2 linked regions of the Homo sapiens genome follow. The protein of the gene in region 1 purifies or fractionates together with the protein of each later gene. This does not show direct contact. Each region holds a gene or a part of one and is shown on either strand. Other genes may lie near its edges. The genes, in order: COL23A1 and PLOD2.

What was found.
Region 2: the proteins of COL23A1 (region 1) and PLOD2 purify together in Homo sapiens (affinity purification with mass spectrometry; one large-scale study listed by BioGRID and IntAct). This does not show direct contact.

The regions. Positions count from the first base shown.
Region 1 is NC_000005.10:178,244,127-178,247,950, reverse strand, and holds part of COL23A1 (collagen alpha-1(XXIII) chain), read left to right. Parts: intron 1-119; coding exon 120-176; intron 177-398; coding exon 399-425; intron 426-1,497; coding exon 1,498-1,560; intron 1,561-1,643; coding exon 1,644-1,697; intron 1,698-1,982; coding exon 1,983-2,009; intron 2,010-3,824.
Region 2 is NC_000003.12:146,081,077-146,084,900, forward strand, and holds part of PLOD2 (procollagen-lysine,2-oxoglutarate 5-dioxygenase 2 isoform 1 precursor), read right to left. Parts: intron 788-3,824; coding exon 662-787; intron 1-661. UniProt on the Homo sapiens protein: Forms hydroxylysine residues in -Xaa-Lys-Gly- sequences in collagens. These hydroxylysines serve as sites of attachment for carbohydrate units and are essential for the stability of the intermolecular collagen cross-links.

The sequences.
Region 1 (3,824 bases):
ACTCTGCCCTCTGGGGGGCAGGAAGGAGACTCTCGATCCAGCAGTGTGCGATGAGCTCGGGTGCGGGTAGGTGAGGGTGACAGGCGGTGGGTGACTAACCTGTCTCTCACCCTCCCTAGGCTCAGCTCATAGTGGAGCCAGGGCCCCCTGGCCCCCCTGGCCCCCCAGGCCCGATGGTAAGGACGGTTTGCTTTGGTTTGGTTTGAAGCAGCCAGGAAACCAAGAGGCGGGGTGGGGGCTAGGTCCCAGAGCCATGACCCAGGAGAGAGCGGGCTTCTTCGTTCAGGGAGGGGCACATGGGCAGAGGGCAGAGCCCAGGACAGGGCCCCAGGGGCCAGTGAGTGGCCACTGCAAGAGGGTCCGGAGCCAGCCTTCTTATCTGCTTCCTCCTCCTGCAGGGCCTCCAGGGAATCCAGGGTCCCAAGGTGAGTGGGCACAGACCCCTCTACTGGCCTCAGACTCACCGTCTGGGCAGTTTCCAAGAGCCTTGCCAATGGGCAAAGCAAAGGGCCTGACGCTCCGCCCTGGCCCATCCCTGAGTCTTCCCAGCGCCTGAACGTCCCAAGTCCCCAGGGCATAACCTCCCCGATGTCGTTGAGGCCAATGCCCCCCTCTCCACCCTTGAGGCTCTCCTCTCCCACTTTCTCCCTCTGCCCGGGACCCCAGTCTGTCCCTCTCTCCTCCTCAGGTCCACCACCGTTTCCACTGCTTGTCCCCTTCTCCTTTGTCTGTGCCTGTCAGTTCCTTGCACTGTCCCCACCTCTCCCCATCCCAGCCCGCCCCACACACATCTGTCTCTCAGCTGCCACAGTCTAAGCACAAAGTCTTGGGCTTGGTGTATATTACATGATGGCGTGTTCCCTGCTCTTACGTTAAGTCCTCGAGTGTGGCCTGCCTGCATGCCCTGCCCCAGGGAGGCAGACACAGAAGGGGAGGCCACCTGGCCTCACTCCTTGTCACACCACCCTCCTGGCGTGAGCAAATCTCTGCTTCCCCAGCTCAGAGGCCAGATGTGGGACTGAGAATCGTGGAAGCCCAGGCCCGAGCCTGCAGCCCCACCAGGTGCTCTGCTTCTGGTTCTGCTTTCTCTTAAGGCCACCACAGTTCATGTTTCAAAGAGGCAGCTGCTATCAGGACAGGGTCCAAGGCTTGCCGTAGAAGCCTGATGGGGACCCAGCTCTGCTGCCTCCCGCTGTGTGGCTGGGCCTGTCCCCCCCCCCCCGCCCCCCGTCTGCACCTGCTTTCCTCATCTTTGGAATGGGTGTGACCGTAATCACCTTCCATGGGGCTGAGGGAGCCTGTTCTGGAAAAGGCGCAATGCGCATGGCCAGAGCTCCTCCTGATCACCCTCACCAGGGAGTAAGCTGGGGCCAGGCCTGGGGGAGCCTCGATCTGTTCCTCTGTCCACATCCCAGCTCCCTTGCAGTCTCCAAGCTTGCCTGTCCTACTGTCTGTCTAACCCCTTCCCCTTGACTGATTTCCCTCCTTTGCCTCCAGGGCTTGGATGGAGCAAAGGGAGAGAAGGGTGCGTCGGGTGAGAGAGGCCCCAGCGGCCTGCCTGTGAGTCTCACAAGCGTTGTTTGTCCCAAAGGTGTTAATTCCTGTCACTAGCATGCCTCTTGACTCATTCCTTTTCTATCCAGGGGCCAGTTGGCCCACCGGGCCTTATTGGGCTGCCAGGAACCAAAGGAGAGAAGGTAACCGCCTCATTCGGAACTCCCTCTCCAACCGTGGCCACCTGGTCATGGTGGCGCTCAGCCCGGGGACCCCAACCCTGTACCTCACTGGGTCCCTGCACTTCGCAGGGCCAGAGTTCAGGCTCTGTGGATGCCAGGTCTGTCCTGGCCTCCATCTATGCCTGCGTGGTTGGTGGGTCTCCTTGCCCCCATGTCTGTGGCCAACCCACAGGGCTGGACTTCCCAGCAGCTGTGCTCCCAGCACCCCTCCCCAACCCCTCTCACCCACTCTGTGTCTCTCCTCAGGGCAGACCCGGGGAGCCAGGACTAGATGTAAGTGTCTTATCATCACTTTGAGTAATTGGGTGCCTCTTGTGTGTATCTTCTGCCCTCATGCAGTAACCTGATCTGGCTACTCAAGTGTGACCCCTTTCCCCAGGGCTGGGACTGCAACTGACTGGTTCCCCCTGTGTCCCCATTGCCAAGTCCAGTGCACGACCCAGAGTAGGTCCTTTGTGGATAGATGAATGGATTGTTGATGGATGGATAAATGGATGGATACATTGGTAGATGGAGGATGGATGGACAATGGAGGATGAATCGATGGATGGATGAATGCATAATGCAGGATTGATGGATGGATGGATAAATGGATGGATGGGTGGATGGATGGGTGAATGGATGGATGAATGAATGGATGGATGGGTGAATGGATGGATGGGTGAATGGATGGATGGGTGATGGATGAGTGGATGATGGGTGGGTGGATGATGGGTGGGTGGATGATGAATGGATGATGGATGGATGGGTGGGTGGATGGATAATGGAAGAATGATGGATGAATGGATGGAGGATTGAATGGACTCATCCATCCATTCATCTATCTATCCACTATGGATGGATGGATGGATGGATGGATAATAGATGAATGATGGATGGATGGATGGATGGATGGATGGATGGATGGATGGATGATGATGGCAGTGGAGGGATGGATGGATGGATGATGGATGATAGATGATGAGTGGATGGGTGGGTGGATGGATGGATGGATGGATGATAGATGATGAGTGAATGGATGGATGATGATGGCAGTGGAGGGATGGAGGGATGGACGGATGGATGGATGATAGATGATGAGTGGATGGATGGATGATGATGGCAGTGGAGGGATGGATGGACGGATGGATGGATGATAGATGATGAGTGGATGGATGGATGGATGATAGATGATGAGTGGATGGATGGATGATGATGGCAGTGGAGGGATGGATGGATGGATGGATGATAGATGATGAGTGGATGGATGGATGATGATGGCAGTGGAGGGATGGATGGATGGATGGATGATGCATTGTAGCAAGGAAGTGAAGAGAGCAGTGAGGAGCCTGTTGCAATATCCTGGTGACAGATAATAGGGCTTTAGCTAGAGCAGTAATTTGAGAAGAAGAGGAAGGGAAGTATTAGCCCAGGCTGATTATGTCAAGTCTCTTCTGGTAGCATACATAGAAAACATAGTTTAAACTGGCTTAAAATTACTCATAACTGAAAAATCTGGAGGTTCAACACATGGATCCAGGGCTCAACTGTGTCAACACAACTCAGCCTTTCACCCTGTCTTGTCTGCTTTCCCTGTGGAAATCAAGTTCCACGTGGTGGTGAGGTAAAGCCAGCAGCTCGAGACCAGCATCCTGCCAGGCCCAAACTAAGAAGAAAGAAAATTTGACTCCAGAGTAGAACTCCAGTGTTCTACAGGAAGTTTCATGGGCTCTCCCTGGTCCCAGTTAGGTCAACGCTGAACTGTCACTTAGCCATAGGAATGCAGTGCCCTGACTAGTGAGACCATGGACTGGGGTGGAATCAATGGGTTATGAGAAGGAGGTTGTTCTCAGGAAAATCAGGTAGCTATTTTGAGGGACATAGGCCCAGATGCAGGGCTGCAAGGACTCTGGTGCCCACCCTAGACTTTAAAAAGAGAACATTACCGGCCAGGCACGGTGGCTCACACCTGTAATCCCAGCACTTTGGGAAGCCGAGGCGGGTGGATCACGAGGTCAAGAGATAGAGACCATCCTGGCTAACACGGTGAAACCCTGTCTCTACTAAATATACAAAAAAAAAAAAAAAATTAGCCAGGCATGGTGGCGG
Region 2 (3,824 bases), on another chromosome or scaffold:
TCATATGTATGAAAAAAAGAATGACATTCTTCTCCAATATTACCTTAGCAAAACTATTTCAATTGTGATTATTTTTAGTAATCAACCATTGTCTCTGAAATAAATATAAATCATGCACACACTTTTCAGCAAATATATTCTTTTCAATCTCTAGAAGTGAAAATCTAATATTGGTAAAAAAAACTTGTATTTAAAGCAGAATAATAGCTATTTCACACAAAAAAACTCATGCAATCAGGAATACTGGAATGTTCTGGCTGTTAGTGTTACTGTTGGCTTAATTATAAATTTTAAAACCTATCAAAACAACCCTTAATTATAACCATTAAAAAGTTAGTAAACTAAATCCCCTTTCCAAGCTTTTAAATAAAGAGTATTACTCTTCTATCAACCATAATGTGAGTATGGTAAACATATATTATCTCTTAGTATTCCCCACAGCAATGAGCTTGTTCCTTTGAAGATTTGGGACTTTAAAAACATTTTTTTAAGATATTAGTTTTATACTAGTATTTCAGGATTCCAAGTGGTCTTGGGTTCTCAAATTCCCATTAACTATAAAGAAAAGAGATGAATGCAAAAAAAATTTCAAGTAATACTAACAAGACTACATCTTTAGATTATGGTATTTCACATTAAAATATTAAACCAAGTAACTTACACTCTATTCCCTTGAACAATATCCACATAATCTTCAGATCGTGCATAGTATCCATCAGGACTCAATGCTCCCCAGAAATTGGACCACAGCTTTCCATGACGAGTTACAAGAGGAGCAATGATCTTTCTAAAGACAGAGAGAGTGTGTGTGAGAGAGAGAAACCTATATAATTATTTATTTTTAAATTACCACAGAATTATGTATTTTGGGCTTAGTATGACATATAACACAAGAAAGCTCATTCAACAAACCTGTAGTTAATAAAAATAAAATAAGGATCTTCTTTCCCAACATCTTTTCTTAAGTAAGTATATTGCTAATTTTCAATCATATTTCTTAAAAAGAGTAACAAAGAAGGAAAAAGTAATTGAAAATGCTAATGAATACATAAAAATGACTTTTAAAAATGCCTTGCTTACATCCAACAGAGGGAAACTACTTTAGTTATTTAATTATATTTAAGTTTAACTAAAGTATTTCGGAACCTATATTAAATGAAACCAAATATTTTCATTGTCACTGGGTGAACAACAGCCCCTGGTGCATTTAAGATATTCAATGAATATTTGTTGAATTTGTAAAAAATGAATGAAGATGAACTGAGATGTTTGTAAACAGGCAAAGCTTTCCTGTAATTAAGTCTCAAATTACTTAAGTATGTTTCCAGTTTTCCATGACTTTAAAAAATGACTTGTGATTACAGTAAGCTAGTCCTGGCAACACTGAACTTTCCTTTAACTATTTTAGAAAGCAAATTTATGGAACAACTATTCTTTATATGAAAAAAGAAAACCTATTTCACCTCTATCTTGTGAAGACCAGCCGGGCCCTTTCTATTACATGCACAAAAGTGAAATAAATAAACACACATCGGGCCCGGCGCAGTGGCTCATGCCTGTAATCCCAGCACTTTGGGAAGCCGAGGCGGGCGGATCACAAGGTCAGGAGTTTGAGACCAGCCTGACCAACATGGTGAAATCCCATCTCTACTAATAATACCAAAAAAAGTTAGCCAGGCATGGTGGCACGCACCTATAATCCCAGCTAATCAAGAGGCTGACACAGGAGAATCGCTTGAACCCGGGAGGCGGAGGTTGCAGTGAGCCAAGATCATGCCACTGCACTCCAGCCTGGGCGACAGAGCAAGACTCCATCTCAAAAAAATAAATAAATAAAAATAAATACACATCATGCAAAATAATAAATTTTGGTTTATTCTTCCGAATTCCTACTAAACTATTAATCAGAAACACATGTTTTGTTTTGTTTTGAATACCTACAATACTGGAAATAATAACATGAATTAGAATCTACATACATTAATTTGGGAAATAATTCAATATGAATATCAAACATTTAATTTAAAAAGAACTTGTAATTTATAATCCCAGCTGCCTCCTGAAAAGGTTTAAACCAACAAATTTGGGAAACCAAAATTCATCTGCTGTATACCTCAATGTTTTTGTGAATAAAAATGTAAGGATGGCAGCTGAGGAATGATTCATATTATTATACAATTTAAGGAGTAAAATTTAGAGCAAGGGAGCAAATAGAGATAGGGAGAGAAGAGGAAAAAAGAGAGCTGATGAGAAGGTAGAAAGCCACATGCCCAAGATGTGTCAAATCTCTTTCTCTACTCTTCAGTCCAATCTACTAAATCTTGCAACATTCCTGGCATATGTCAATAGACTATAGAAACCACATGTCTAGATACAGAAGCAAGAACCATAGGTATTACATAAACCTAAACCTTTGATTAACTAACAGAATTCCATGGAGACACAGCCTGAGTTTTACTCTTTAAGGGGCAAGGGCCCCAGATGGCAGGTAAGTCTTTTTCTTTTTTTTTTTTTTTTTTTTTTGAGACGGAGTCTCGCTGTGTCGCCCAGGCTAGAGTGCAGTGGCGCAATCTTGGCTCACTGCCAGCTCCACCTCCTGGGTTCACACCATTCTCCTGCCTCAGCTTCCCGAGTAGCTGGGACTACAGGTGCCCGCTACCACGCCCGGCTAATTTTTTGTATTTTTAGTAGAGATGGCGTTTCACTGTGTTAGCCAGGATGATCTCGATCTCCTGACCTCGTGATCCACCCACCTTGGCCTCCCAAAGTGCTGGGATTACAGGCGTGAGCCACCACACCCGGCCGGGAATTTTTTTTCTTTTAGAAGATTTAAAATGTTTAATATTAAGAGGGATATATGTCAAATACATAGTGTAAATTCATTAAATAGTTCACTAAGAGAATAATTAATAAATATATAAATTATAGTCATAAAATGAAAATATCTAATTATTAAAAAGCATATGGGCATTACACACTATAGCATTTCAATCAAATTAAGAGAAAACAATGCAAATTCAAGAAAATAGTACTGAATTAAACTAGGTTTTAAGAGTTACAAATCATACACTATTTCATATCTCTAGGGTGTCACAACTGCTTTTCCTTGCCAAATGATCAAAACCTCATTCATATGCTTTGGAAAATTACCTACGATGTATATAGATAGTTAACTTAGATACTGAGTATCTATAACACAGCTATACAGTTGGGCTGTATATACAGGTTGCTACAGAGAGGTCTTAGATTTTTGAAGTAAGAACTAAATTCTCAAATTTACAAATTCTAGTGATATATATATATAGATAGATATTATATATAGGGTGGGTTAATAAAGCATACTACATTTCCCATGTATCTTACTTAACAAAATAAAAACAATCATTCTAACATTTCACCCGCTAAACATTCTATTTATTATGAGAAATAATTGTGTTAATACATGTACTTACAACAATACCTGGCACTTAATAAGCACTTGTTAAAGGTGAGGTCTTAGCAGGAGTAGTAAAAATGGTATTATTAGTATTAGCAGTAGTATTGACAAACAAACTTAGTATCATTGTAAGCTGATATACATGGTGTCTTTTTCCCATTTCAATTGAGTTAAATGAGCAAACAGACACTGTGAAGTGATAACTAGTTCAACAGTAAATAAAGCTACACATATGACTGTGGGATGATTTGTACCTCTGAAATTTCCTTCTGATACTAAGGACTACAACTCTGTATGCAATAACTATCTTGGTCAGAAGTTTTGTGAAATTCTACTTTAAAAATATCTATAGAGAATAAAACAACTCTAAATTTTAGTATCAGATGTA